2 separate regions of the Homo sapiens genome follow, and region 1 is linked to region 2. Evidence: fine-mapped expression QTL. A gene starts in region 2. The other region holds a variant in brackets. All regions are shown on one strand. Distances are from middle to middle.

Region 1 (15,331 bases), 30 kb after region 2:
CTGTGTCTGTTAAACACAGTTTAACAGTGCCTTACACATAGTAAGCTCACAGGAAACATTAACTCTTATTGGTGTCATGCAAACCACGAACTCTTCTGCACTGTGTTGACCCAGATGTGGAATTACTCCCATACCCCTGGTTTACACACACACACACACACACACACACACACACACCGTTTACACAAGGCTTCATGAATGCGGTGAACTTTATGGAGGTCTGGGGAGACCAAGGGTATTTGTATTACAACAATTCAGAATTGAGCACTGGATAAGCTTATTCTAAAATAGATTGGCCAAAGGTTACACCATTTGGTCTTCCTCCTCTCTCCCTTGGTGCTCACAAGCAACTCACTCAAACAGGTCCCCCTCTTTATTATGTTGAGTAATTCAGCTGTCTTTACTCTCCAGCCCCACTCCTCAACTTTGCTCCTCAGTTCACTTTGCAAATCCAAAGACAACTTCTAAAGAATGGACCTTCTACCCTGATTCTCATGCTGGATTCCTCCCTCATAGGGAGAAGAGTAGCAATGAAGATTTATTTTTCCTACTGACATGAACTGTGCTACCTCTCAGGATGCTTTAGTGATAGTTTTGGTTTTTCTCTATAGGTATATGAATCACACGTTGTATTTTTTCTAGTAAATACTTGAGAAAGAATTTGATCCAGGAGTCTGGGGCAGAGCCCAAGGCTGCGCATTTCTAACATGTTCACAGGTAATGCTGATACTGCTTATCTGAGGTCCCACAGTTTGACTGCAATGTATTTATTTTTGCAATGGGGCATATTGCTCTATAAATGTTCTCCTGCTCTTGTTCTAAACCTTCACACCCTCATAACTAGGGATTTGATCACAGCCACAGGTTCTCAATCTTGATACTAGGCCACATAATTCTTGGTTGTGGGGGGGCTATCTTTTGTATATAGGAGGCTTATTAACACCCCGAGCCTCTACTCAGTAGATCTCAGTAACATTTACTAGTTACGAGAACCACAAAACTTCTCCAGACATTGCCAAATGTCTCTGGGGGCAGGGGGTGTGATGGGTAGCCACCCCCAGTTTTGAGAGCTGCTGGTCTCAGCTAAATAGTTCCTGTAATAGTTCAAGTCCATTATATCTTATTCTACCCCACACTTTACCTCTGTATTTAAGTTCAGGGGCCTGGATTTATTCATTGAGAAGAAAGGTATGGAGGAGTCCCAGCAGCCTCTGGATCACCCTTGATTTCCAAGGAGAATCATCAACACTTTGTGACTGCTTTTTCTCAAAGGCTCCACACTTAACCCATCTGCAGTGGAGCCAAGGACATCCAGGTCTGTTTCCAGTACCGTCTCTAGTCCTGTTAACGCTCCCCGTGTGGCGGGAAACCTCACAGGAACTAGGGAATGGCCTTTGGTTTTTGGCTTATAAATACTCATCATCACATTTCTTTTGCTGAGAAGTTTTTCAAAATCGTGTTTAACATTCTTGTTGCCGTAGTGGAAACTTTTGTTCTTTGGAGGGCTTCCCATCCTAGGCCCAGGTCAGATTCCTCAGCAGAGCTCTGAACATTTTCTAGGGAAGTTTCAGCAGTGAGATCGCACCTTTGATGCACTTACACAACTGTGGCTGGATTCTGGGTTAAGACTCCCAGGATCCCAACATACACAACAGGGAAACTATGCAGCTGGAGGAAGGGCCATGTGCCTGGGAGTCTTTCTGGGAGGCCAGGATCAAAATCCTTTTATGATTCTATTACTTTTCTGGGTTTCTCTCCTTGCCCCCTAATGTCTTAAATCTAAGATAAACAATGAGCACTTCAGTCAGTAAAAGATTATGCGTAATAACACACAATCTCCAAATTTCAGTGACTGAAAACAACAAAGGTGTATTTCTTACTCATGTTATCTGTCGGTAGTGGATCAACAGAGGGTCTCTGCTTGTTTTAGTCCCTCAGGAACTGAGGCTGGCAGAACAGGCCCTGTCTTCAATGTTGGCAGTTGCTGTTCTAAAGGAAAAGGGAGTCTGGTCCTCACAATTAAAAGCTCTAGACCACTAATGATGCTTCTGTTCATCAGTGTTCTATAGTGAAACAGAACCAATAGGATCTCTCTCTACATATATCTGGATTTGTTTTAAGGAATGGGCTCCCATGGTTGTGGGACTGACAAGTCAAAAATCTGCAGGGTAGGCCAGCAGGCTGGAGACCCAGGAAAGAGCTGATGTTGCAGCTCAAGACTGAAGGCAGTCTAGGGGTAGAGTTCCCTTCATTGGGGGACCTCGGTCATTTTCTCTGAAGGCCTCCAACTGATCAAATGAGGCCTACCCACATTATGGAGGGTAATCTGCTTTACTCAGAGTCTACTGATTTAAGTGTTCATCTCATGTTAAAAAAAGAAAAAATTCTGGCTGGGCATGGTGGCTCACGCCTGTAATCCCAGCACTTTGGGAGGCCGAGGTGGGTGGATCACCTGAGGTCAGGAGTTTGAGACGAGTCTGGCCAGCATGGTGAATTCCCAGCTCTACTAAAAATACAAAAATTAGTCGGGCATGGTAGCACACGCCTGTAGTCCTAGCTATTTGGGAGGCTGAGGCAGGAGAATCGCTTGAAGCTGGGAGGTGGAGGCTGCAGCGAGCCGAGGTGGCGTCACTGCACTCCAGCCTGGGTGACAGAGTGAAACTGCATCTCAATTAAAAAAAAAAAAAAAAAAAAAAAACTTCACAGTAACCTTTATACTGGTATTTGACCAAATACCTGGTCCCATGGCCAACTTGACACATAAAATTAACCCTTCATATTTTCAGCGAATGGGCCAAAGTTAGCCACATGACTCCACCCAACACAAGGACCCAGGAAGTACCATCCTCTGTGTGTAATCGGGGGTGGGGACCAACAATATTTGACTAAGCACCAACAACTAGAACAACTATAAATTATTTTATCTGAGGATGAAAGAAAGTATTAATCTGTGGTATTTTGACGTTAATGCATTCTACTAACACAATGCAGAAATAGTGTTAGACTTAGCTCTACCTGCTCAATTCATTCGTAGCAGAGGTCATGGAAGAACATGGGTTGTAGCATGGCCTGGCCTCCAGGGTGACTAAATTTGAACACTGTTACTGAACATCGTCCTGTTATTCTTCTGTATTGTTTTCTTTATAACATGTTTTCTGTGTGTGATGTTGCATTTAAAGCCCATTTGTGTGCTGTGTAATTGAAGTATGCCTTGCAATTAATTTGGCCTTTGTGACCTCCTTTTAGTATAAATTCTTTAGGTTCCTTTTTCTTGCTTGGATCGGAATCATCTGAAAGGGCTCAGGAGCCAGCTGTCGCTCTGTGTTTTTTGCTACTGAGTCACTGTTTCTGACAAGCCTCTCCTGAGTGTGGGCCCTCATTTCCTTGTCTAGAGTGGGGTTGAGCAATGTGATTTCTAAGGTTCCTTCTGGCTCTGACATTCTGTGTGCCTTTGTTCCACACCCTTTTTCAGTGATGCCAGTGCCAGGGGGTACAGCCTCAGGGATGTATAACAGGGTTTTCCTCCACAAAACTGGCAGAATTGTTCTGGGTTCTTATTTGAAAATGTGGCATGTGGCCTCTCATCAGTGCTTTGGCCATTTTGCATGCACTAACTCACAGAGAATGCAGGCTACACCCCAGCTGGTGAGCATCACCATCATCTCTATGCCCACTGGCTTTCTGTTTGGCTGGAGGGAAGCTGAGGACAAGAGGATGTTAGGTTGGAGCACAGGGAGGCCTGTGGAAGGCAGGGACGGTGTAGAGTCTGGCCCAGCTGAAAATGGGCTTGGGGAGCCTGGCCAGTCCTTCAGGTCCATCTGGGCAAACCTAGTCTTCAAAGGGCAGAGTCACAAGGACCTCAAATGCTACTTACCTCCTCCAGTACTAACATTTGACACATCTAATGCCTATTCATTGTTGTGAAGTTCAAATGAGGTAACTCATGAGGAAGTGCCCACAAAACTAAACACTTATGACACACTCTCAAACACACTCTCAAACAATAAGAATTACTATCATGAGCTGCCTGACTCCACAAGATTTTAGTGCTAGGTGCTAGGGACAGAAAAGTGAAAAAAAGATGCTCAGTTAATTAGCATACAATGTGATGCTACCTCTAACAATAGACTTTGGATGATGTCTTAGTTCAAGCTGCTCTAACAAAATACCATAGATTGGGTGACTTACACAGCAAACGCTTATTTCTCACAGTTCTGGAGGCCGGAAAGTCAAGATCCAGGCACTGGCAGATTTGACGTCTGGTGGTTCAGCCTTCTCACTGTGTCCTCACATGGCAGATGGGATGAGACAGCTCTCTGGGGTCTCTTTTATAAGGGCATGAATCCCGTTCAGGGGAGCTCCACCCTCATGACCTAATCATATCCCGAAGGCCCCGCCTACACATAGCATCAGATAGGGAATTCTGCCTCAACCTATGAATTTTGAGAGGACACACACATTCAGTCCATAGCAACGGGCAAAGCTTGTGAGAGCACAGAGGAAGGAGTTTTTAATGTTCAACACTCTGCTCGTGGGGGTGGAAGCCTCCATAGCAGCACTGACAGTTTAACCTGGTCTGGAAAGATGGCAAAGACTGCACAGGTGGAGGGAATGGGCATCCTAGCCTGAGTGAGTGGCAGCGTGCTGGAGAGGCTTATGGAAACCTCTGGTAATCTGGCCTGGTGGCTGGGTGGGGTGGGTGGGACCATGTGGGGGAAGCTGCGGAGGGAGCTGGTGATCAAATTAGGAAAGGTCTTGGATAATCTATGAGGAGCCTGGACTTCGCTGAATTTTTCAGTTACCAGGTTTTAAAAAACTTTTTATTTCAGTTTTTGGCTGAAAGAAGAAGCTATTATTTTAATTTTATTTAAAACCTGCCTGTGGATCTATAATAGGCAAAACTTAACTCAAATAGATTTAATCATAGCCTTGCTGCACTGTCCTGTTAATTTTGCTACTCTCCTTCCTCTTAGAGCTTCCACGTAGAATACATTTATCTTCTCGCTCTAGTCTCGTCTTGATTGAAATATTGGAGTGAGAGATAGAAGGTGGGATCTTTATTTTTTTTTCTCTGTATACAGAATAATGCCTATTTTAGAATGTGGAAAATACTAAAAACTATAAAGATGAAAAAAGAAATTTACCCTCTGGACAAGGTTGGTAGAAGATGAGTGGTTGAGCTCCAGTAGAATCAGTTTTGTTCAAATCCTAATTTTTTCACATATTACCTGTAAGACCTTGGCAATTTACTATCTCCAGGCCTCAGTTTCCTCATCTGTAAAATGGGAATAATAATCACAATACCTACCTCCTAAAGTTCCTATTGGGACTAAATCATTTTCTTCATGCAAAGCACTTAGGAAAGTGCTGTGTACATAGCAAATAATTAATATTTCTTATGGGTTATTGCAACACCCTCTGGGTGAGTTCAGCCCTAGAGGAAAGTAGGTGAGTTCCCTTGGGGAAGGGTCTTTCTGCCTCCATGTTCTACATCAGGAAAGTGGAGAAGCTTGTCATACCACAGGATGAGGCTAGTGCCGAGTCACAGACTGGTGTGTGTTCAGAGTTTTTCCCTGGAGGATGCTAGCTTATCCTCCCTTGCTCCTTCCTTTCTAGCATTTCCACCCACCTCGGGCTCTTGGGGCAGGCTGTCCCTTTAAGAAAGAGAGCCACACATTCTGCTCCTGACAGTGGCCCTGCCTCCCTTGCTAGATACCTTGCTGGGCTGTGGTTGGGACACTCCTGGGCTGGATTTTAGTACTGAAGCCTCCAGAGGAGGGGGCACTGCTTCAAATCAAGCACACCCCACCCCAGGAATCCATGCCCACAGAAGGACTCCCTGTCTGCAGCCCCCTGCTGTGGCCCTGGGCTCCCAGCACCCAGCTCTGGGACATCAGAAGATAATTCTTGAGGACTGAGCTCAGGATTCCTAAAAAGAAAGTTGGAAAATAGCTGGATAAACTTGGTAAGTGAAAGAAAGCCGCGTTACATCCTCTTCCTTGGATTGTGGATTGCAGATTTTGGGTTGAGTTCTGGTGACTCTTGCCAGTGGTATCTGATGGGCAAATGTGAGAAGGAGGAGACAGAGGTGGGGACTGGGATCCCCAGTGGGTAGCGAGTCTTGAACTTGGGGATAGCCCCCCACCTTATCCTGGTGGTTGTCAACCTTGAGGCAGGGAGCTGGGGGTTGACATCTGAACATAGCTGGAGCCTGGCCCAAGGAGTGAAGATCCGGGAGGGGCAGATGTCAGATTTCTCCCTCATTTGGGAAAAACAAAGTGTGGTCAGTGAGTGCTGTTTGTGAAGATGCCAGAGACCAGTGACATTTGCAGCCTGAGGGTGAAATGAGTGACCCTGTGAGTGTATCTCAGGAGGAGACTTGGACCAATTCCTCTTCTTCCTATAGGGTCAGGGGACAGACCAGGCCTGGGCCCCAAGAAATCTGCGTTGTCTCCTTGGATTGAGGCAGCTGCCCATGAGCAGCAGCGGACAGTGTCGTAGTGGGAGGAGGCAGGTCTGCCAAGGGCAGGGAAGAATGGAGGGCCTGTTACTGCTGAAGCCTGGGAACGCTGCCTGGGGGGAGGCCCACGCTCCCCAGAGCTGGAGTGAGAAGGAATGGGAGGAGAAGTCTATGCAGCAGGGGGATGGGCTCAGCCAGCATCCCCACCCTCTGCAGAGCAAATGCCCCCGTCCCATTTCCTGTGGCATGGACACAGGTGAGCTTCCTGGCCTTGAATGCTCAGGTACAGTTTGGAGGGCTGGGGTCTGTTACAAAGAGGTGGCCTCCCATGGAGGAAGCAGGAAATGCTAGAAGCCTCAGCCCCTGGCACTCACCCGAGGGTTTCCAAATCAGAGACACTTTCTGCTAAATTATGCTTCAACAGATGTTTTCTGTGTTCCTACTTGTGCCAGGCTTTGTGCTGGGGATTTACCAAAATATAATATGGCATGGTGGAATTGGGAAGGTGTGCAGAGCTGGAAAGATATTTTGGATGTGAGATTAAAGCCATTTTTGAAAAGTAACAATAATAGTTACCATTTATTCTGTACCTTGAATGCACCAATCACTCTGCTAAAGGCTTTGCATCTCCTTTAATTCTTGCAGTAGTTTATTGACTTGTGACTAATTTTGTAGATTTCAAAGATTAAGAAACTAAGGCTCAGAGATTAAGGACCTTTCCTTAAAGATGCAGGGCTGGTAAATGGCAAAGCCAGGATGAACCTCTTAAGTCGTCTAACCATTTATTCATTTGTGTGTTCAACAAAGTTGAATTGCTGGCCTACTGTGTGACAGCCATTGTAGAGGGCACTCAGGACACAGCTGGGACAGGGAAGGGTCCAGGGCAGCCTAACTCCATAGCCTGGGTCCTCACCCCCAGCCAGAGCCCTTCACACTGGGCCCCAGAGACCCCTGGGAACATTGTGTGATTGTTTTCTCCAAGGTCTGAGACTCTGCTTGAGAATGTGCTTTTCCTTGAGAAATGTTTCTTTGTTTTCATTTTAATAATAATACTGTAAAAATTGGAGGCATTTATTCTGAATCATCTGAATGACCACCATATAACCTACTATTGGCATGCGATTTTAGTCCCCAGGTTTGTGTTTCTGTGCAAGTTGGCACCGAGTGGTTTCCTAAAATGATAGTTTTTAACTTTCAATGCTTTGTTTCTCAAACTGGGCTCTACACTGTGTGCTTCAAAGGCCCAAAGATTAAGAAAGGCTACATCGACAGATTCTACTGCAGGAAGGGAGATGTGCAGTATGGGTGTCCCAAGAGGAAATGGTTCAACATCCTCCTCTCCTGGGGGGTGAAGAAAACTGAGGAGTTCAGGTTGGGGCAAAGCAGCTTGGGGGTTCTGAATCTTCCAACCTGCTGGTCTCCAAGCTCAGGATGGACCTAGGCCAGAGACTCAGAGAGGAACAGGCAAGTCAGGAAAAACGAAGACTCTTGAGTTCAGATTGGTGTGCTCTGCTCTGACATAGCATCTCTGACCTCAAGCAAACTTGCTCCTTTCTGGGCCTTTGCAGATGGGACGACTTGTGCCGGGAAGGGGGAAGTGTGGGG[C/T]CTCCCTGGAACACTGTGTGACTTCCTCCCAAAGAGGGATGTTTTGTGGTCATTCAGAACTTCTGACCTTTCCTGAGGCCCAGCTGTTAGGTGAGAAGGCCATCGCATGATCCCTGGTGTACAGAACTGTGCATGTGACTTGTGCCTCACCACCCTGGGGGCATCCAGGGCTGTATCATGCTAGCCTGGTGCTTTGGCCCTTAGATGGGGCTGGGCAATCAGCATCCTTTCTGGATCGGATGTCCTGCCAGTCTTGGAGGCTGGAGGCAGGAGACTGAGGACCCCTGCCTCTCCATCCTCTTCCACCTCCTTTCCCTCCTCCCCCTGCTGGGGTTTTGGGTCTTGCTGTCATCTCTGCTTTTGAATGATGCTCCATTGTATCTCCACTCTCTGGTTACTGTCCCTCAGCTGGGCCCTGGGTGGTCATTCTGGTCGTCTTTTCTCCAGACTCCACTCTACCCTCTTCTGTCTTGTACATTAGGAGTCAGTGAACATTATCTGCAAAGGTCTTGATAGTAAATATTTCAGCTCTGGGGGCCTTCTGTGCTACACATTAGTAATTTGTTCCTAATTTTATCTCCTCAAGCGCAGGAGTCAATAGAACTTGGCTATCTCTGCAGCCTCCCCCGCCCCCAGTTCTGTGCCTGCTGGGCAGTAGGCACTCAGGAAGTATTGCTGGCATAAATCCCAATGACCTCTCCCCATCCCCCTAGAGCCCGTGCCCCAGCAGGGGGCATCTTGGGGTCTAGCTGTACCATTTTGGGAAATCAGGATCTGGTCACCTGTTGGTTGCTGTGGCATCCTGTAGCTAAATCCATCTCTGGCCCTGTAACCTGAACCTGCCCCAGGCCCTGTGCTCCAGGATCAAGTGTCCCTGTTTGTTTTGACATCCCCTGTGGGGCGTTAGAGATCCAGATTTCAAAGCAAGATTTTTTTCTAGCAGCGGTTGAAGGCCAGGCCCCTGCCAGCTCCTGGGCTCCCATGTTAGCATTTTCAGTTAATTAAGAAAACAAACCCCACATCCTTGACAGAGGTGGTTCTGCCAATTCAGGACAGAGAACTTTGCATCAGCATAGCATGCAGGAGAAGCTGGCCAGCTCCTGCAGGCAGGACAAGCTGAGGGAGGCAGATGTTTGAGCTGGAGAGGACCCACTGGTGCCTTCTCGGCAAGAGCAGGTTCCGCGGAAGTCGCATGGTTGGGAAGCCAGCTCCAGGCAAGGTCCAGAGCATGGAATTTCTGTTCCTCTTTCCCCATCCAGGGTGCATTTATCATGGGTGAGGGCCATGGGGAAAGGCCAGCTGGATGAGAATAGCAGGGGGAGACACAAATACTTTCTTGGGACTTGCCAGTCTTCCTCTCCAGAGCCAGGTTATCCCAACTGTCTAACTCCTGGAGGAGAATGATGAGAGGTGACCTGGGGTGGCTTCAGAGGGGCCCAGGTAGCTGACCTGCCAGCTGCCAAGAAGGAGCCTGATCAGAGAGGCTGCTTAGCCATGCAGGGCCTGGATGTGAATTTAAGAAGGGTCTTTGTCAGGCTGGGTGCGGTGGCTCACGCCTGTAATCTCAGCACTTTGGGAGGCCAAGGCAGGAAGATCACCTGAGGTCAGGAGTCTGAAACCAGCCTGGCGGACATGGGGAAACGCTCTCTCTACTAAAAATACAAAAATTAGCCAGGCATGGTGGTGTGCGCCTGTAGTTTCAGCTACTCAGGAGGCTGAGGCAGGATAATGCTTGAACCCGGGAGGTGGAGGTTGCAGCGAACTGAGATTGCGCCACTGCACTCCAGCTGGGTGACAGAGCAAGACTGTTTAAAACAAAACAAAACAAAACAAAACAAAACAAAACAAAACAAAACACAAGGTCGGGGGGTTGGTGGGGGGCCTTTGTTTCTTGAAGGAAACATAGTTAAGCATACTCCTGTAAAGTAGCCCAGCTCTGCCAGTGTGTGTGTGTTGGGGGGCACTTTCCTGAGCCTGGCTGTGCATTCACTCACAGAATCACCCTGTCACCTGATCACACACCCTCTCCATCGTACCAGGGATAAGATATGTCCTTCCCCTGCTCCCACCGTGGCTGTGATTGGGCAGGTGGGAATGGGGGGAGTCAAGGGAGCATAGGTGGGACTGGCTTTCTGCACCCCGATATCTGTACTGAGTGTACTGAGTGTACTCTTTCCCAGGTGTACAAGCCCTGCAGGCAGGGTGGGCTCATGTATCTCCTTGGATGTGGGATTCTCTTGCAGTTCACAGCCTGCACACTACATGCAGTGGTCCTTGTACCTCTTGGGTAGAATGGAATTGGAGGGAGACCCAGTCCTGCTCTATCATTGCTAAATGGCCCAGCACACATTATTTGGGCTTTGTGAATCTCTTAATTTCTAATGGGAAATGGGAATGAGGTTCACATTTTATGTGTCCCCATGGTGCAGGTGTGTTGGCAAATATGAGATAAGGCGTATTTCATGCCTAGTGCAGTGAACCTGGCCTCCTTCCCCATTGGACATGTGTCTTGGTCCAGCTTCTGCCTGCTGGCTTGGGATGTGGCTGCCTTAAAAGATAGTGGGGAGAAATGATAAACACACGGCTGGCATCTTCTCAGCTTAGGAGAAGAGCCCTGGGGAAGAAGCGATTGTGCGGCCTGCTCCTGGTCTCTGGTATAACTAGTTCAAATAACTGCCAGTTAGTAGCAGATTTTTTTTTTATTTTACTTTCGAGGGTCTTCTCCTTACCTGCTGGAACTCTCTGGGCTCCCTGCCATGAGTACTTTGTCATTCACAGCACAATCCCAAAGTGAGGGGCTGGGGCTATTCTAGGAAAGCAAGTCTCTTAAAAGGTGAGCATCCCTGTGGTGTCCTAAAGCTGGGGAGAAGCCACTTAGGGTTTTGGGGGACTCTCGACTCCTTCTCTTTCTCTCTTTTTCATTTCCAGTGGAATCCTCAGGTGATCGGTTGTGTAGCTGATATGCCCAATAGCTCCCCTTTCCTGGAGAACATATCCAATTTGCCTCACGATCCTCCTGAAATTCTTGAATCCCTGGACACCAGGCTAGTTTGTTTGCTTTTCTCCTTTTGCCAGTGATTTTTTTCACTTCATATTAGGACTGTTTGCACACAAAAATTAAGAAAAATGTACATAAAAAATCAGATGTGAAATGTGAAAAAGCATACTAATGGTAGGCAAATAATAATAATTAGTATGCATAGTCACAGGTTTCTGTAACTTCAACTTGGCAAATCCAAATGTCTTGGAATGACTGTCAGGAGCACCTTCTCTTTTTAAAGAGAAGTTTCTAAGTACCCTTCAAGCTTCAAAGAGAAAATCTGAGGTGAGGAAATCAGGAGAAGTTGGGAATCAGTTTCCTGGAGTATTTGAGAATATTTAAAGAGAGAGGCGGTGTAGCTTGGATCCTAGCAGGGCTCACAATATTTAGGGGAAATATTCATGAATGAATCTTGGCTAAGATTTTTGGAATTTTTAATTTTTGTTTTTATATTGCATTTTTGTAGTTGTTGTTTCCACTTAAGTAGAAACTCAGGAGAAACCAGGAAGCAAAGCAGAATTTGTCTGCGACTGTTCTGTAGTGGGAGAGAAGAGTTCTGTGCTGTGAATTCGAAAATTGGGTTCTAGACATGGCTGTGGCATGAGTTTGCTGTGGGTCCTGAGGCAAGTAGCCTGCTTCTTGGGCCTCAGTTTCTCGCCTGTAAAGCGGTCTTTAAATGGTAGTACCTTCATTCTCAACGTCTTGTGCATGCCAGCAGCTGTATGAGGGGCGTCCTGCAGATCATGTCGGAGAAAGGAGGAGTTGAGTCCATTTGCACACAGGTGGGGAGTGTGACATCTCAAGAGGGGAAGGCACAGCTATCCAGGAGCTGAAGTGGGGCGGGGGTAGTCTTTTTCAGAGTCTGATTATTGGGTCTGGGTTTGTGGAATGGTGCTTCACCACCCCAGGGAATGGTGGCCCTCACTCACGCCTTGGCTCTGTGTGTGTGGGCTCATGGAGGTGCCCCCGGGCCTGGTAGGATGCAGGGGCCTGGGCTTCAGAAACAGTGGCTGGAGGATTCTCCCTGACTCTTTTCCTTGGGGTCCTCATGCCTGGATTACTCTTCAGGGTCTCTGTCTTTGTGTGAAGTGTGATACCCCTTGACCCCCTTGGTCTGAGAATGAACTCTCTTAATGGACCAAAGGGGAATCTGGAAAATCACAAACCCAGTTTCAGAATTCAAGGGGTATAGTCCCTTCATGTCTGAGCCCTGGAGTACTTCTTGGGTCATCTTGCCAGCTGCCCAAGCTCTGCCTGCCCTGCCGCTCACACTTCTAACTCCTGCCCTCCCTGCTACCTGAAGGCTCATACCTGGGGAACGCCTCGCTGTCCTTGGAGACTCAGCCCAAAAATCACCACACCTACAAAGTCTCTCTAACGCCTCCTCCTCCCCACCAATTTCAGGTAGTAGGGTTCCCTCTCACCTGTGCTCCCACAGGCCTGTCCCTGATGAAGCACTGAGCACAATGTTTGAAAACCACTGTTCTGTCTGACTCTCGCTAGACTATTAGCTTCCAGAATGCAAAGCCCTGACTGGTTCAGTTTTGCATTTCTAGTATGTCTTAGTCCATTTGTGCCAATATTCCACACACTGGGTAATTTATAAACCAAAACAACATTTCTCATGGTTCTGGACTTTGGGAAGTGCAAGATCAAGGTGCCAGCAGAGTTGTTGTCTGGTGAGGGCTGCCCTCTGCTCCTAAGGTGGTGTTTTGTTGCTTCTTAATGAAAAACTGTAAAGAGCATAGGTACTCCTTGCATTTTTGCTATTCATTCATGCAGCCAATATTTAATAAGGACCTACTATGCATTAGCCCTTGCCAGTGGAACTATGCTATAGTTTGCATGTCTGTGTTCCTTTCCTTCCTCTGGAGGGGAAGAACACTGTGTCCTTACATGACAGAAGGAATGGAAGGGCTAAAAGGGCCTAAGCTAATTCCCTCCACCCCCCTCCGTCTTTTTTTTTTTGAGACGGATTCTTGCTCTGTCGCCAGGCTGGAGTGCAATGGTGCGATCTCAGCTCACTGCAGCCTCTGCCTCCCGGGTTCAAGTGATTCTCCTTCCTCAGCCTCCCGGGTAGCTGGGACTACAGGTGCGTGCCACCATGCCCGGCTAATTTTTGTATTTTTGGTAGAGACGGGGTTTCACCATGTTGGCCTGGATGGTGTTGATCTCCTGACCTTGTGATCTGCCCGCCTCTGCCTCCCGCCTTTTTATAATGCACTAATCCATTCATGAAGGTAGAGCCATCATGACTTAATCACTTCCCAAAAGGCCCCACCCTTAGTATTATTGCAACAAAGATTAAGTTTCAACATATGCATTTTGGAGGGAACACAGACATGCAAACCATAGCACAGTTCCACTAGCAGGGGCTAACGCATAGTAGGTCCTTATTAAATATTGGCTGCATGAATGAATAGCAGAGATGCAAGGAGAATTTATGCTCTCTACAGTTTTTCTTTAAGAAAGAAGCAAGAATGGTTACTGTTTGGATAATTCACCCAGGGACCAGCTTCACGGGATGCTGTTTAAACAGATAAATCCAATTGGCATCTCTTCTTTGTATACTTTTGTTGATGGCAGGGGCCTGGGGAGCGGGCTGTGTGTTCCACACAGGGTGTGTGGATGGGCCTGCACATGCGCCTATGACTGGTTGTGGGTAGCAAGCACAGAATGATCCTGTTTTTCTGTAAATACTGAGCCACAAACATTGGCAGTGACTTTCTGGCCATTATCCTCAGTGGTGTGTGATTCTTGCGGCTTTTCCCAGGGTGTACCAAAGGAGTGTGACTGTGGTGACCATCGATGGGGAGGCTGGCAGCACTCAGGGTGATGGACAGAACCCCATGGTTGGTTCCCTCTTAAGAGGCTTGTGTTGGAGGCTGAGTGATACCTCATTTGGCACCAGTTGGAGAGTTTATAGCCTGTGAGGGTTCTTACACTTACCAAGAGGAAATTGGGCAATAGAAATTTATGTTAATGTCTGTGGGATAACAAAAAAGCAACATGTCCCTGGGTCAGTAGTGATCTTACCTTCAGGGGTTTGTTTATTCATTGGCACACTCAGACATTTCTACTCAGTGCCTGCCATATATGCCTGTCCTCATTCTAGGGATGCAGACTGAACCTGGTCCCTGCCCTCAGAGGGCTTAGTTTCTGGTAAAAGTGCTTGAAGATTGGGAGGATGGGAGTTGAAGCTGGCACCCTCCCCAGAGCCGTTCTGAGCCGGCCCCTTGGTGGGAAATATCATTTCTCCATTTATTAGCTCCTCTGTTCTCCCCCAAGTTGTTGCTGGCCAGAAGCACCTTGGTACCACCCTTCTAGATTTCTCATGCTCCCTCCTTCCCCACGCTGAGTTAGAGACCCTTCATCCATACTCTCATCATTCCCTGTACAGCTCCACCAAGATACTTCTGCCCACTACCCCGGCCTGCTCACATTTGTACCCCCTTTCCGACTGGGAGATTTTTACAATCAGGTCTGTGTTTTATTCACTGCCGCATCCTACAGTGCACAGTGTCTGGCCCAGAGTGGGGGTTCATAGATGGTTGTGGAGTGGATGCCCATGGGGCAATGCTGGACTGCATTTATTTCATCTTCAGCATTCACACTGAAGCCTGTGTCTATCTATTTTCATCTTTTTCTGGGTCCGTCATGGAGAGGCATGACTCTCAGAGAAGTTGCTGAAAAGCTGGGGCATTGCGAGAAATTGGAGAAATCTGGGAAGCCACAGGCTGGAGTCGCTGGGGTCCGGTGAGTCCTCTGTGACTGTCATTCCACGCACTCCCTCCCAGGGAGGGAGGCAGGTGGGCTTCAGGGCTGACAGAGTGGGGCTCTGAGTCCAGACTGTGCTTGTGCTGAGGCCTGCGTCTTCTTCATCGTGAGTGGGGACAAGTGATGCTGACAGACAGACCTACCCCTGTGGCCCTCCGGCTCAGGCAGTGCAGCTGGGCCAGCAGGAGAGAGGGCCGCCTGGGAATAGCTGGGAAGCAAGTCCAGGCCTTGGGCCCACCTCCCCCAAGGCCAGGATGTGGCGTGGGACCCAGGCCTGCGGAGGTTCCCACCACTCTGCTCCTGCACTCCCAAATGCTCCAGGCCCAGGCAGCAGGAGGGGGTGGCGAGGGGCTCCAGCTGCCTGGGTCAAGACTGCATCAGGACCAGGGCAGCTCTGCAGGCACACACCTCTGACATTTAGCCTCCACCTGGATAGCTGCCAGTGGCCC
Region 2 (15,331 bases):
TTAATCCTTGTCCTGGCAAGTTCAAGGAGTACCAGCCTTCCCAACAAAGCAACTACTCTTCTTTAATCCACCACCAAATCAATTCACCGTCTGTGTCTCTTGTCTTCTAGATTTCCAGGCTGGAGTCCAACACTGCCCATAAGTTCCAACTTTAGGGGGCACTTAGTGAGGTCCTTGAGTCATCTCCCTGAAGCTCTCCTCAATGTGGGAATGGGTAAAAAATTCAGTACAGTTCTCTCAAAGAAATCCTCCTCATAACATTCTTTCTCAACCCCCACACTTCCAATTCTTTTTAAAAACTCCTTGTAGGAAGGGATTTTTGGAGGCATAAAACTGGTTCCCAAATATTTCCTTTTGAAAATCTGCTTCTTACTCTGAAACATTATTTTAGAATTTCTTATCTATTGTATCTTGTTGCCCCCATTAAAACTTCCAATTTGGCATTTTATTACACTCGTGTTTATTTTTAGAGACTTCTGGTCCCTATCAGACTAAACACTGTTTCTTAAAGCTATGGGATATTCATAGATATTACGTGAAAAATGGGACCTAGGAAAAAATAACTTTGGGGAATAAATACTGTGGTAAGCAAAGGTAGGCAGATCTCTTTTGCTATAGGAATTCTCAAATTCTTCACTATGTTAATATGAACTACGAAGTTACAAGTAGGGCATATAGACTATAGATTTTATAAAATTATTTGACCATGAGGACCCCTCCCCTACCTTTTTTGAAAATTGTTTCAAAGGATTAGTATTCTATAGGAGGTATTTTGGAAATATTAGCCTGGAAGGTACCAGTGGAAAGGAAAGGTATATTCTTCTTCATCCAGAAAACTCGCCTAAGGGAGACAACATGTTATTGTCCTTCACCTACTCCTCATCCTGGGAATTTTGAAAGTTTCATGTGTTTTTATGTTTTTGCTTTTTTTTAAACCTGATTGTGGTAAAGCTTAATGGCGTAGTTCCTCCACTAGACCATGAATTCCTTGTGGAGAGGAACCTCGTCTTATTCATCTTATATCTCCAGGGCTTATGAAAGTGCCTGGCACCTAGCAGGACCGAATGAGCCAAAGTGTTAGTGGAGGGTTTCTTTACTTCTTCTTTTAAAGAAAGTAAGAAAGGTCTCCACACTGGGGTCCCAAACCACCGACATGCAATAGTCAGACAAGCCTATTATTGGGTGCTTATGAAACCTGCCAGTGTGTGAAAATCTGTGCTTATAAATATTTGGCATACAGAAGAATGTGTATGCAAATTAAATGTGCAAATGTCCTGTGCTCTTTCCAAGGGCAACCAGGTTGAGTTTTCTTTTTCTTTATATCTGTGAGTGTGATTGTGTACACACAGCTTAAGAGACGAGTTGCTAAGAACTTTCTGAAAGAAATGAATGGGATAAAACAGATTGCCAAGTTACTGAGTGGTAATTAAGAACAGATTCTTAACATTATCACTTTACCATTTTTAAGCTATTTTCCTTTAAAAGACAAAACCACTGAATGATGAAATGTGTCATGCTTCTCCTGATGTCCCTGAGTCTTTGCTCAGTTGCACACACATCCATATGCCAGTCCAAAGTCACACATCCTGAACATTGTAAGCAGTTTCAAACTATTTTTCAATGGAGAAAAATGTGTATGTGTGTGTCTGTGTGTGTCTGTGTGTGTGTGTGTATGTGTGTGTGTGTGAGACCCATCATCACCCCCAATATAGATCACCTGGGGAAACTTATTTCTTTTAAATATTCCAAAATATAATTTTACCCTGAAGCTAACTGGAATACTTGGCCCTGAGCATTATTTTTCAAAGGATTTTGAGCTACTGAAAATGGGGTATAATGGAAGTTTTGTATGTGATCATGACAGTGCAAGTACCCTGGCTCCAGAAATAACAAAAGTGGTGGTGGCTACTAGCAGGAATGGCCTTTGCAGACTGGGGACCTTGGGCTCTGATCACAGATTGGCAGGAGGATGGTCAGAAAAGAATTCCACTCCATTTCCCACCCATTTTGGCACTCTACTCACTGTGCGATAGTCCCTCTCAATTTGGCCAGGTGTGGTGCAGTGGGCCACAGTTGCCTTGCTGGCCTTTGAGGGAGGCCACATGCCAGATTAGACATACGCGTGGCCTGTCTCTCTGCGGGGGTGGAGGGCCGCCGCCACTATGTCCTGGAATTGTGTGTCTTGTGGTTAAACACTTGGGGTTTTGACGTAGGCAAGGCAGCAGAGCCGACCCTCAAAGCTGCTGCAAACAACCTGAGAAGGCTTCTCAAAAATGCAGTCCTGCTCCTCAGGAGGAGATGGCCTTTATGGGGGCAATTTTCTGATTGCTGCCTATTTGCTGTGGTTATGCTTGAGCCAGGGGAGATTTCTTAACTCCAAGAAAGAGGTTTGCAGAAAGCTGGACTCCAGAAACCTGTACGTTAACGTTGAGTACATTCTTAAAATTAACTAACAGAGGAGCTGTGTGTGTTGGGTGGAGGGAGTGGGTATAGAGGTAGGAAAGAGGGCAAAGAGAAGAAAAGGCATATAAGAACAGTGGTCATCTGTAAGGTACAAATATTCTGCAATTTAATCCTTACTCTCGCACCATGGGATTGGTCCTTCTATTAGTCTGAATTTTGCAGAGAAGTGAAATGATGCTCTTACTTACAAGAGTCAGAGCTGGAATTAGAAACCAGGTTTTTCTCATGCCATATTCTGGGGTCATTTCTACCACATGACAATGAGGACCTAAAATATCTTCAAGTTGTTGGGACATGCAGTTCATGTTCTATTGATAAGTATGTACTTTCAGGAAGAAATTGTGGTAGCCATGGGCTTTTTCTCTCTTTAGCTGTATCCTTGGAAGTTACCGTGAGATAATAGAAGTCCAGGAGTCTTGTCCTGAACAGTGGAGGTTGTATCCCTTACTAGAAGTGACAGAAGCAGGATAGGCCCCAGGATCAGGCTCATGATCAAAATACCTGAAGTGTGATGTGTCTGTGCTGGATGGGGTCCAGTTCAAGACAAGTTGCTTCTGCCTTCTAGGCATTAACAGCACACCTGATAACAAAGTTTGACACCTCCCTGAACAGAGTCTAAGAGCCAGCAGATTGATACTGACCACATAAGTGGTAGGATGAAAAAGACTTTGAAATTTTGAGGCATCCTTTTCCTTCCAAGTTTCAGAAGAACTTATTGAGGTAGAGGCTTTCAATTTATTTTGCTTCATTTGAACTTTACAACAATACTTTAGGGTGGAATAATTTTCATCCCATGTTGTTGTTGAAGAACACTGTATTTTTTAGGATTCTCCTACTAATAGGAGATTCAGAGAAACAACCAACAGGATGTAGTATATGAATATTGAGAGAGAGAGAGACTGATTTTAAAGAATTGGCTTATGTAATTATGGAGGCCTGGTAGTCTAAAATCTGGAGGGTAGACCAGCAGGGGTAGGCCAGCAGGCTGGAGACCCAGGGAAGCATTGCAGTTGGAGTCCTGAGGCAGTCTGCTGGCACAGTTCCCTCTTGCGGGGTGGGGGTCAGTCTTTGTTCTATTAAGAATTTCAGTTGATTGCATGAGGCCTACCTACATTATGGAGGGTACTCAGCTTTACTCAAAGTCCACCAATTTAAATATTAATCTCATCCAAAACCACCTTCACAGAAGTATCCAGAATAATGCTTGATCAACTATCTGGGCACTGTGGCACAGCCAAGTTGACACATGAAGTTAACCATCACAAAAACTATGCTTGAGAAAGTTTCCTGCCATGCTGAGGTCACACAGCAGTGAGAGGCAGGGCTGGGATTTAACCAAGGTCTTTGGTTCAAACACTTGCTATAGTCCACAATAGTAAATCAGAGAAAGGTATATGTTATTTGCGGAGAGTCACATATTGATTAGATGACATATTCATGGGGCCTTCATTTATTCTTCAGAAAGTCTTTATGGAGTGCTATTGTGGTCCATGCTGTACTAGACTAGGATCTCTACCCCTGGAGAGTGAGCAAGTGACTTTTGTGAAGCCTGCTTCTTATCATGATAGGCTGGGCCTTGGAAGTATATAGTGAGCTTTGGAAGCCAGGTCAACCATAATGTGCTATTTGAGAATCTTTCATCAAGCAGGTACAATTTTCCAGATGAGTAGTGTGCTACAGAGGGCCTCACTGTATGTTCCGGGAACATTCCTAGAATATGCAGGTGAAGAAGGATGAAACCCCTTTCTTGGGAATCTTGAGAATAGGAGAGACTCCCACATTAGGACCCTGTGAGTGATAGGGCTGGGGGTAGGGAGTGAATCAGATGATCTTCGAGTGGGCCCTACTACTTCATGGACTCTTCAGGGCTTGCCAACCTCAAAAACAGCTCCTCAGCACTGACAGCCACGTATTTTATGAATTTCACTTGCTCCTCATCCCAATAGAACCCAATTAAGAATGCTTGGGGGCCAGGCGCAATGGCTCACACCTGTAATCCCAGCGCTTCGGCCTCTCGAGTTGAGAGAATTGCTTGAGACCAGGAATTTGAGATTAGCTTGGGAAACATAGCAAGACCACATCGCTACAAAAAAAAAAAAAAAAAAAAAAAAAAAAAAGGTTAGCAGGGCCTAGTGGCATGCACCTGTAGTCCCAGCTACTGGGAAGGCTGAGGTGGGAAAATCCCTTGAGCCCAGGAGTTCGAAGCTGTAGTGAGCTATCATCGTGCCACTGCACTCCAGCCTAGGTGACAGAGAGAGACCCTGCCTCCAAAACACTTGGGCAAGGATGGAGAGACTCCCCTCTCCCAGACCTAGAATGCTTGCTCCTCAGCCTCACTTCCCCTGTTTCTGTCCTCATGATGTCCCCAACCTGCCACCTCTGAGTCTCTGGCCCTATCTTTTTTTGTGTTTTTATTTATTTATTTATTTATTTATTTATTTATTTATTTATTTATTTTTTTGAGACGGAGTCTCGCTCTGTCGCCCAGGCTGGAGTGCAGTGGCGCAATCTCGGCTCACTGCAAGCTCCGCCTCCTAGGTTCACGCCATTCTCCTGCCTCAGCCTCCGAAGTAGCTGGGACTACAGGCGCCCACCACCACGCCTGGCTAATTTTTTGTATTTTTTAGTGGAGACGGGGTTTAACCGTGTTAGCCAGGATGGTCTCGATCTCCTGACCTCGTGGTCCGCCCGCCTCGGTCTCCCAAAGTGCTGGGAATACAGGCGTGAGCCACCGCGCCTGGCCAAATCTGATCTTCTCTTAAAGAGAGTTTGTGGAAGGCATCCTCTGTCTTCTGTATTACAATCTCACTGGTCAGAACTTGGTCTCATAGCAATTGTGAGCTACCAGGGAGTCTGGGATGGTGAATATTGTAGATTTCTAACTTCTTTAGTTGAGAAAGGCAAGGGAGAATGGGTTTGTCAATGGCTTCTGGAAACCTATTTGCAGGGTCTGCTGAAGAACAGAGCTCACCTTGCCAGTGGAGCCTTGATATGAGAGAGGGAATGGAAGGAGGTAAAAGTGGGGTATTATGCCAGGGAGAGCAATCCCACAGTGACCAAACAGCAGCTCCCTGCTGCAGGGCCCTCGGTGGCTTGGGTCAAAACAGCGTGGCCTCTACCGAGAGGCCCAGCCCTAAGACAGCTCCTTCTGGCAATCAGCTCTAACCAGCTGCTGCCAAAGAGGTAAACACATTCCAAGTCCTTGAGTCCCTGCTGCACTGTAACTGTGGTTAAAACACAACCCCGCCTCTACCAGTTTGGGCTAATGGAAAGTTCACTATAGTTGTGTTTTAATGATGATTTGCAATTATCCGTGCCCCCTCCCATTCATGGTGAGATGAATACCTAAACACTTATGTTGTCTAACCATATAAGTATTTTGCATCTCACGTGTATCATTTTAAGTTCATTTCATTCTCCAATCCTTGGGAACCATGAAGGATAACACATTACATTCTCTTTTTTTTTTTTTTTTCCTCTGGAAGATCATGCATTACATTCTCTTTTTTTCTCTGGAAGGGTGGCCCTTAAACCAAGCCATTTCCCTAAGCCCCTTTGGTGAGGTGGAGAAACAGACAACCACTAACACAGAACAACCACTGAACACCCAGAAAACTGTATACAGGTCATCACCCAGTGGGGGCACCATTTGCTTGCAGAGGGAGCTGGGGAAAATAGGAAACAGAGAAGATCAAATACTCCCCGTGAGGGTGTTGCCAATCCCAGAGAGGACAATTGCTCTTGACCAAAGCAATCTCTAGTTCAGTCAAGGAGACAGACCACAATCACATTTAAAAAAAAAAGAAAAAAAAAAACTAAAAGGAAATTTTAAAAGTATGAATAAGAGCTATTGTAAACTGCTCAAACTATGCATACAAGCAATGAAGTAAGATGAATTGACTGGCACTGAATTGGAAAAGCTATACAGAGGCAGGGAGTGTGGAACATAATTTAATAAAAATAAACTTAAAAAAATATATATACACTCCCAAAAAAGAAATGGAAAAGTTGTTAGGGCGTGGACCAGGACTCCTAATTAGCTGTTCTGTTGTGCCTGATTTCGCTCCTGTCTTGCCCAGCACCCCTTGGGACACACTGTCCAGTGCAGGGACACTTTGGGGAGGGACAGGGGATTCCTTGGCACCGGGACCTTCACCTCCGAGCCGGCCTCAGACCAGGCCATTTGCCCGTAGCCCAGAGGAGGAGCCGGGGAGAAACCCGCTGCCCAGGTGGCCACTTTTGCCTCTTTGACCCTTCCATGTTTCCAAAACAGAAGGGGCCCTGAGAACGCTCCCTGCCAAAGTGGGGAACAGCTACCCTCATTGTACGCCTCGCCCTGCCGGTGGCGCTCTCCCCCCGCCTGCGTTCGGTCTGAAAGTGTGAAAATTACAAATCCCAAGAAACTGCAATCAGAAGTCTACCTAGGGAAAATTCAGAGTAACCTTGCCATAAATATCCCGCTCCAAGACGCCTGACGTCAGAGCGGGGCGGGCGGACGGGCGCGAGGCCGGGCCTGGAGGGGCGGCAGCCGCGGCTTCCCGGGGATAGCGCGGAGCACGCAGCAGCGAGCGGAGCGCGGGCGGCGGCGCCGTACCTCGGGCTGCGGGAGCGCGGGCGCCCTGGGGTCCTCGGAGTAAGTGCGGCCGGCCCTGGCGCTCCCCGTCTTGGGGCCCGGGCCGCGGGGAGCCCTCTCCGCTGGGCTCCCACACTTCTCTCCCTCTGCTTTCTTTAGCATGCCCCGCGGGGCTTGGGGAGGCAGCAGCTCCGCAGGCTGGCGGTTTTGTTTCTCCAAAGTGTTTGCAGGAGCCGCCGACCCCGGAGTGGGCTCCCAGGGCCTGTGTGTGTGTGAGTTGTGTGTGTGTATGAGTGTGATTGCGTGTGTCTGTACTGGCACATCTGGACATAGGAAATGTCTTTGGAAAACTTTTTAAAAATGTTTTTTGCGGCTTTGAAACCTGACCCCTGGTTGTCACAAGTGGACAAACACAGAAGATACCCCGCAAAACTGACAACTTTTTGGTGGTGGCTTTTCCGGGTTCGGCTTGAACCTTCACTTGGCTGGGCTGAAGTCTTCACAAGCCCCCAGCTCCCACTTGCAGGCCTGGCCTCTGGCCAGTGGGCAGGGCAGCCGTAAGGTTCTTGTTCTCAGTGGCAGTGGGACCCTGGGCGGGGGAAGGAGCATCTCAGGAAAGGGGTCCCCGGACTCTGGGGCTCTCAGCACCTGCGGTCGCAAACCAACCTCATGCCCTGACTTTACCAGGCGTCGGGACTCTGACTTAACCGGGGAATGAGGGACTTGGTCTGGCGGCAGGTAATTTTGTGAAGAGGATGAGAAGGAAGAGGGGGAGGTGGTGGTGATGGCCAGGACGCTGTGGCCCTGTGTCCAGCCGTAGCTTGGGAGTGGGATGGTTGGTTCTGCCACATGGCCACGGTGAGGTACGTGCCAGGTTCTCCAGGAGTGCCGCGTGTGGTGCCCCAAACAAGATGCAAGCTCCTAACATAAAGAGACGTGTCTGAGCTGTGGGGTGGAGGAAGGGGGGCGGTGGGGGAGAGGGAGATTTTTATCAAAATTGAACACAGATTGCTGAGATCTGGGCTTGATTTAACTCTTCTCTCTCTGCCTCGGCCACTTCTCCACAGTTTTGGAGTGGATTTGGAACGTTTCTCGGAGGGTTAGAGGAAAATCACACCTCTCCGGAAAAGAGTCCCCATAGGTTTTCCCTTGATGCCCACGTGGGAATGAAAGCAGCTTCCCATCTTTAAAAAGTTCAAAGTCTTGTGTTTTCCCCCTTCTGAGTTTGGTGTTAGTTTCCTGAGTTTCTTTGCAAAGCCAGCTGAAGCGGGGGATGGATTTTCCCTAGGGCCTAGGGCGGAAAGTGTGCTCCACGGAGAGTAGGGGAAAAAAGCAGCAGTGAGGCTGTATCGATCCATCATCCCTGAGTAGCACAGTGCCAGGCACTGCCTGTCAATAGCTGGGTTCCACAAACGAGTGACCACAGACAGACTGAATTTTCAGCTTTGAGCTAGCCAGGTCTCTGGTTTTGTATTTTGCAGTAGAGCCAACCTACAATGTCTGGGTGGGAGGAAGATTACTGGACTCTCCCTCTGTCCTAGAAAAATGAGAAAATGAAGGGACAGGGAGGAAATCTGGATGTAAAAACAGACCCACAGGAAGTTAAGATTCAGGAAGGATTTTAGAAATTATATAAATTGAACCCCAGGGAAGCTCCATAAAAGATGGAGCAGGCAGCAATGTCAGAAACAGACTCATTTAACTTCAGGAGTACGTTGTCAACTGAAGTGTAATGAAGGAGGAGGAAATCATCCCATAGGCAATGTAAACAAGGGTGCATGTAAACAGGAGTGACTGGTCCCCATGAGATGCACATGCCTATGTGTTTTTACACATACATGACTGTGTGGTGATGGCCATGGCCTTAGACATGGGAGGATAAATGGTCTATTTCTTCATCTGTGCTGGGAACTCCATCTAACCCCCATTTCTTCCTTTATGCAAACAACTGTGCTATTATTGTCTTGCTCCCTGGTAGTTGCAAACTCTGGCTCCTAACTCCCAGCTGAGTTTTCAGAGCTTTTCCTCCAGCGCCTCGGATGCTGAGGGAATACTCGTGCCCCCATCAGGACAAAAAGAGGAGAGAACATTCTCCTGGGCATTAGAACTTAGAGAGTCAGGGGCTCAAGAAGGCGGAGGCTGTGCAGGCAAGACCAATAGGAAGGCCTGTAAATGATTTTGTTTTTGGTGAGCGTGGAGGAAGTTGAAATACTACTGCTTGCTGTGAGAACATGTTCTCTCCCCAGTCTTCTTTCCCGACTGTCTCCAAAGTTTTTGATGCAAAACAGATTAAACTCCCCATTACTAAAGAGCCTTGGATCCAGGTGTAAAGAATGAAGATAAAGGGTAAGTACAGGCAGTAGAGAAAGCATAGAGATAATGAAAGATGAGGCTTTCTTATTTGATTTTACTAGAGCCAATGGAAGTAACAAGTTTAAATGTTCTCATTCATTTCCATTATTTAAACATAGAAGACTACCCAGGGACAGAAGGGACCCCTCGGAACAGGATTCCCAGAAATACTCTTATCCCAGCATACAACTCCTCAGGGACAGGTGAGGGGCAAGAACTGGGTTTTCAACTCTTTCTACATGTGGGGTTTCTGGGAGTGCTGCATGTGGGATCAGTGGAGTCCTGATGCTTCTGGGCTTGTACTAGGAGACATTTCACTATGGCCGGGATGAATTCCCAGGCCATGGATGCCTAGGCTGACATTGAAGCCTTCTCATGGCTCATTCTATCAGTTCAATCTTCTGGCCAGCTCTTTGGTCATCTTTGAGATTAGATTAAGTAGATGGGATGCATTCCAAGACATCCTTGAAGGTCCAGAGGGCAAACACAGCTGGCAGAAAGAACAAGTTGAAGGATATCCTTGGCTTTGATAGCGGATGACCCTCTAGATCTCAACAGCCAGAGACTCTGTCAAGGATCCTGTGTCATTCAGCCCTAGACTTCAGAGGCAGCCCGACAACAATGGAAAGAGTGCAGATTTCTGATCAGCTGCCTGGAGAGAGAGAACTGTGACCTAAATACGAATTAGTAACCTGGGCTACATGACTTATTCCTTCTGAGCTTCAGCTTCCTCATCTGTAAAATAAGGATAGTATTTCCCTCCCCAGGTCATTATGAAAACATTTATGCACAAGAACTAAGAACAGAGCTCAGAATGTTATAAGACCCTTCATAAAGGGAGTGCTGTATTTTTATTTTTCAGTTTTTCAGCCATCACAAGCCAGTATTGCTTGGAAAGAACCTCTCCCCAAATCTAGCTACATATTTTCCATGATTGAAGGCTAGTGGGTGGAGTTTCTAGGGCTCTGATCATCCTTACTTCCTTCCTCTAGAAAAGGTGACCAATGAAGATATTCCATGAGCATCCCTGGTCCATTATCCTGAAGTGTGGGAGAAGAAACCAGGGATCCTGGATGTCTGGCCTAGAAATCACTCTTGTGTTTGTGCTCTTTAGGGAGGGAGAAGGACAGAAGAGCAGGTTGTATAAGTATGGTGGGGAGGGGAAAGGTAGGGAGGTGGGGGTAGGGCAGGAGGGTCAAGGACCAATTGGATCTTGAAGGACAAGCCTGAGTCAGAGAGCGGGTAGGCAGCCACTCCTTGTCAAGGGTGCTCAGGTCAGAGTAATGGGGGAATCTGATGGGTTGTAAAGAATGAAAGCTTTAGTCATTGCAAACATCTCCAGTGGGTATGGGGTGGGAGGCTGCCCCCTGAACCCTGATTGATACATTATCCAAGGGAGTGACTACTCCAAAGGAACAAAGGAACATCTGATGTTAGAGAGCAGCTGCAGGTCCTCTTGGCCCATCTCAAAGCTTGTAAGTTATCCTTCAAGTTGACATTTAAGATTTTGAAGATCACATTTGTTTTTGTTTTGTTCAAGCTCTCTCTTTAACCATGGCCTGGGATGACTTTTAAGCTTTTAAGAGGCTCAACCAGTGGTCAACTTCTCTTGAGATGGCCCAGAGCGGGGGTCAGTGAATTCCTCACTCTTGGCAGCATCTATTTCTCCAACTCTCTCCACATTTTTTGGTTTGTTTTTTGTTTCATTATGAGGTTCTAAAACTGCACAGTCAAGATGCTGTGGGGGGAGGAAGTAAGTGCCTGTTCTTGGAACCTGTGCAGCGTTATGCTAGCACTGGCCAAGACTTATCAGACTATGGTTATTAATAGGTGTTATGGGTTTCTTTCTGGGGTCCCCCTCCAAAAAAAAAAAAAAAAAAAAAACCTGTAAAAAAAAAATGAACTTTAGGCAGTTTGATGTCTCTTTCAATCCTGGCCAAAGAGGAGCTGAATTATTTGTGGTACATCCTATGGTTCCAAGGAAGAGCTTTAGAATCAAGCAGACAGAGATTTGAGTTCTGGCACCACCAGGTCACAAGCTTGCTAACCTCTCTGAGTCTTCTTTATCTGTTAAATGAGAACAATAACTATTCTCATTCCCCAGGGTTGTTCTGAAAATGAAATGGAATGATATAAGGGAAGAAGCTAGCAAACTGCTCAGTAAAATGTTAATGCCATTCCCCTCTCCAGTTCTAAGTCCGTGAAAATACATGGGTTTAGACATTTGTCCACAGGTCAAAGTAAATAAGCCACTTATTCAAGGATTAACAACTGTGCTTGGAGGTCAGATATCTCAGCCTGGAGATGGAGACCCTTTATACAAAAGTGGGGCACAGAACAGTGCTCCCCATGCCAAGCAAATGGCAGCCCCATGTGACCCTCTATTGGAATAAAGGAAAGGCCACTAGCTCACTCACCCATGAATTTGGGCTATTTAGTGAGCTCTCCATAGAGCTTGTTTAAAAAGCTCAAATACTGTCCTGAGAATCAAGGTCAAACTGAGGACAGAAATCATTGAGGCAGTACCTAACATTAAAATCTAATAATGATGTCACAATGACAGCAGTATTTTAAATTTATATAACATTGTATCATTTGAAAGGTACATTGTCTCATTTAAACATCGTTGACAATCATATGAGATTGATATTAACCACATTTCACAGCCCAAATTCTGAGGACTTAAAAAACTTACCATATTTCACACCTTAAGTAAGTGGAATAAACAGAAAACAAACTGTTCCCCAAGCAGTGGGTCTCAACCCTGGCTGCACATTAGAACCACTTGGGGGAGCTTGTAAAAGTATCAATGCTTGGGCCCACCCCAGATCAATTTAATTAGACTCCTTGGGAATGGAACCTAGGCGTCCACAGTTCTGTAAGCTTCCCAGGTGATCTGAAGTCTAAGCTGAGAATCACTGGTCTAAGAGGAGTGAAAAGCACCAAAGTTAGGACCCAGGATACCAGGCATGGGAAAAAGAAACAGCCAAGACTTTGCTAGGATTTAAGCCCTATGAGGGTGCAGACTTCGTATGGTTCTCCCTGTATCCCTGGAGCCTAGGAGAGTGCCAGCTACAAGGTAAGTGCTCAATAAACATTGGGTAGATGAACAAATGAACAAGATACCATAGATTAGAAGTTGTCAATTTCAACAGTGAAACCCAGCTTGTCATCTTGTTTTATAGATAAAGTTTTATTGGAACACAGCCATCTCTGTTCATTTGTGCTTTGCCTATGGCTGCTTTCGTGCTGCAATGGCAGAGTTGAGTAGATGTGACAGAGACTGCATGGCCTACAAAGCTGAAAACATTTACCATCTAGCATTTCACAGGAAAGGTTTGCTGGCTCCTGCTCTGGATCCCAGACATGAACAGAGCAAGTATAGTAGCTTAGGGAAGGTCATTACTGCATGGTTGTTAAGAATATGGGTTCTAGAATCAGATAAACCTATGTATGATTCCTGGAACACTTACCTATTAAAAGAGCTTGCAAATTATTTCACCTTTCTGATTCTCAGTTTTCGCATCTGAAAAGTGGGGATGATAATAAAATACCTCCCTCATAGGATGACTGTGAGGGTTGTCAGCCCCTGGCGGAGAGTAACATTAGCTATAGCTATGGTAGTTGCTGTAGTTACTAGCAATCAGCCACATAGAGAACTAACTAGACAAAAGTCAAAATCTAAATCCAGTATCACAAGGTAGATCAAGGGATGAAGTAGGAAAAAATAGGCAGTCAGTAAGCTTGTGTGAAGAAAGACTAATGTGAGGTTTCTGAGATAAATGGTGTCCTTTTAAGACAACACAGATCAGGCCCCAGGAAGTGTGAGTGAGGTGCTTTTGTATGACCAATTGCTGTGTCGGCCAGCAATCCCCATCAGTCCTCAAGGGTTAACTTAAGTTTCATTGCACCAAATCTAGTCTCAAGAACAGTGCACCTGTATACATAGTTCTTTCTACCTGAAAGTCCTTGCCTCAGTCCTGGTCTTCCTGATCTACTCATCCTCCAAGGCCTGCTCAGGTGTCCCTTTTTTTCTCAAATTCCCTCTACAAGGCTCATTCCAACCCCCTTTTCCTCCTTATTCCCTTGAACCTGGCACACAACTCTGTCATCACATTGAACACATTGCATTACCGTCGAGGAAGGACCAAGTCTCCTTCATGCTTTCTACATGTTTACAGCTCATAAAAGTCAAATTGCATTGTAGAATCGACGCCTGGAAGCCAAACCATATCAACTAGGCCCTTAATCCAAGGCAATCATGTCTGAGTTTGAGGAATGAGTAGGACTTGCCCAGGTGTGATGGGCTTGCAAGAGCTAGTCTCCATAACCAGAGGGGCAGGAGCTACCCAGTTTATCGACTATGTGGATACTTTGTGTCCTCGTCTCCCCACTGTTTGGTGGCTCCTGCCCTCCACAACACTTCTAGGGGGTAGCCAGAGACAGGGAAAGATGGAAGAAACTTAAAACCAACTCTTTGATTTCTTGTCAGCAGATGTGGTGAAAAGTCGGGTTTTGTCTTCTGTAGGCTTTTCATGGATATGTGCCAAGATAATTGGGAGTTGATTTGGTATGTGCCAAGAGAATTGGGATTTGGCTCTTTCGTTAGCACCGTAATAGAAATATGGCCACAAATAATAGCAAACAAATAATGCACAGTTTTGCTGTTTGACTACAGAATGTGTTGCATAATTTTTATAGACTTTAGTGGCAGACTTATTTTGGTGGCAGATATATATTGTGTGTGGAATAATGTAAAAATGAAGTTCTATTCTGATGGTGAAGGGGAGGGCACAGAAAACTCTTCACCTTGAGTTAAATATTTCTTTTGATCCTCCCCAAATGAACGATTGGGAGCTGCCTCCTAAGAGGGGCAGGAGGAGAGGAAATGAAATACTATTTATCTATATGCTCCACTATACATGACACTAGGCAGGTCATTTTAAAAAATATATTCTTCATTTGATTTTTCCATATTATGAAGGTAATTCTTTCTTGCTTAAGCAAGTGAATTAATATCATGCAAAGATATATAAAGACAAGTAGAAATGTATTCACCCCCTTCTACACCCTGGTAATTAATGTTAATAGCCTAGTAATATATCCTGCTGTAACTTCATTTGTCCATACAAATACCTACTGGTGTGTATACAGGATGGAGGTATTTTGCCTGAGTATTTTTCACTGAAAGGGAATCTTATAGTACATGTTACTCTGTAGCATACTTTTCTTTCCCTTGACCATATGTCAAGGTCATCCTTACACTGGATGTAACTCATTTTTATTTTTTCTGATGTCTTTATGCCTAGACTTACACAGCTTTACATATTTGGGATCACATTGTTCCTGGTGAGGTGGTCATTTTGTCATCAGTCAGCTATTAAGTGTGGTTTCTTTCTGGATGATCACTAGATTGGGTCTCTGAGCTGCCAGATCAAGCATCATCCATCACCCAGGCAAGCTTTGCTTTGGCTCTTAGGCTGCGTGACGGATGTACACAGCCTGCTGACCACCCTGGGGTGTGACTACCTGGTGTGTGTGGCCTCCTTGTGTCTCCTGGGCCTGGGGTAGCTATCAGGCATCAGGCCCCTATGACTGCCCTTCCTGCTCATCAGAGTTAGGCTTACCTCCTTGGAGCTCCTTAATTACTGAATATGCGGGAAACATAGCAGGATGATCAATGAGATTGGAGAACAGTTTTGATGGAGCAAATCGGGCAGCATAGTATAATGGCCAAGCATGTGGGCCCTGCACTCAACTTGCCTGGCTGGGTCCACATCCCTGTGTAGTGGACACTGGGCTGTGCTCTCTGACCCCTTTGAGGACTGAGTCCCCAGCTGCAGGGAGTGCTGGACATGGTTAGCCTTTTTGGAGCAGCCCCGGCTAAAGAGACTTGCTGTGTCAGGCACTCCTGTCCATGCTCCTCTCCTGGGTCACCCTGAA

The links.
Region 1: its variant is fine-mapped to the expression of DAAM2 in whole blood (TOPMed, PIP above 0.99).

Annotation. Positions count from the first base shown.
Region 1 is chr6:39,815,509-39,830,839 of GRCh38, forward strand. The region is part of intron 1 of DAAM2 (dishevelled associated activator of morphogenesis 2); the gene reads left to right. LOC124901487 (a long non-coding RNA gene) reads right to left here and starts at 4,303. Exons shown (of 2, transcript XR_007059917.1): 1 at 4,189-4,303. RefSeq lists an enhancer at 8,652-9,212. The variant C/T (reference allele first, on the strand shown) is at 8,066.
Region 2 is chr6:39,785,370-39,800,700 of GRCh38, forward strand. It overlaps DAAM2 (dishevelled associated activator of morphogenesis 2), which reads left to right and starts at 7,007. Exons shown (of 25, transcript NM_001201427.2): 1 at 7,007-7,096.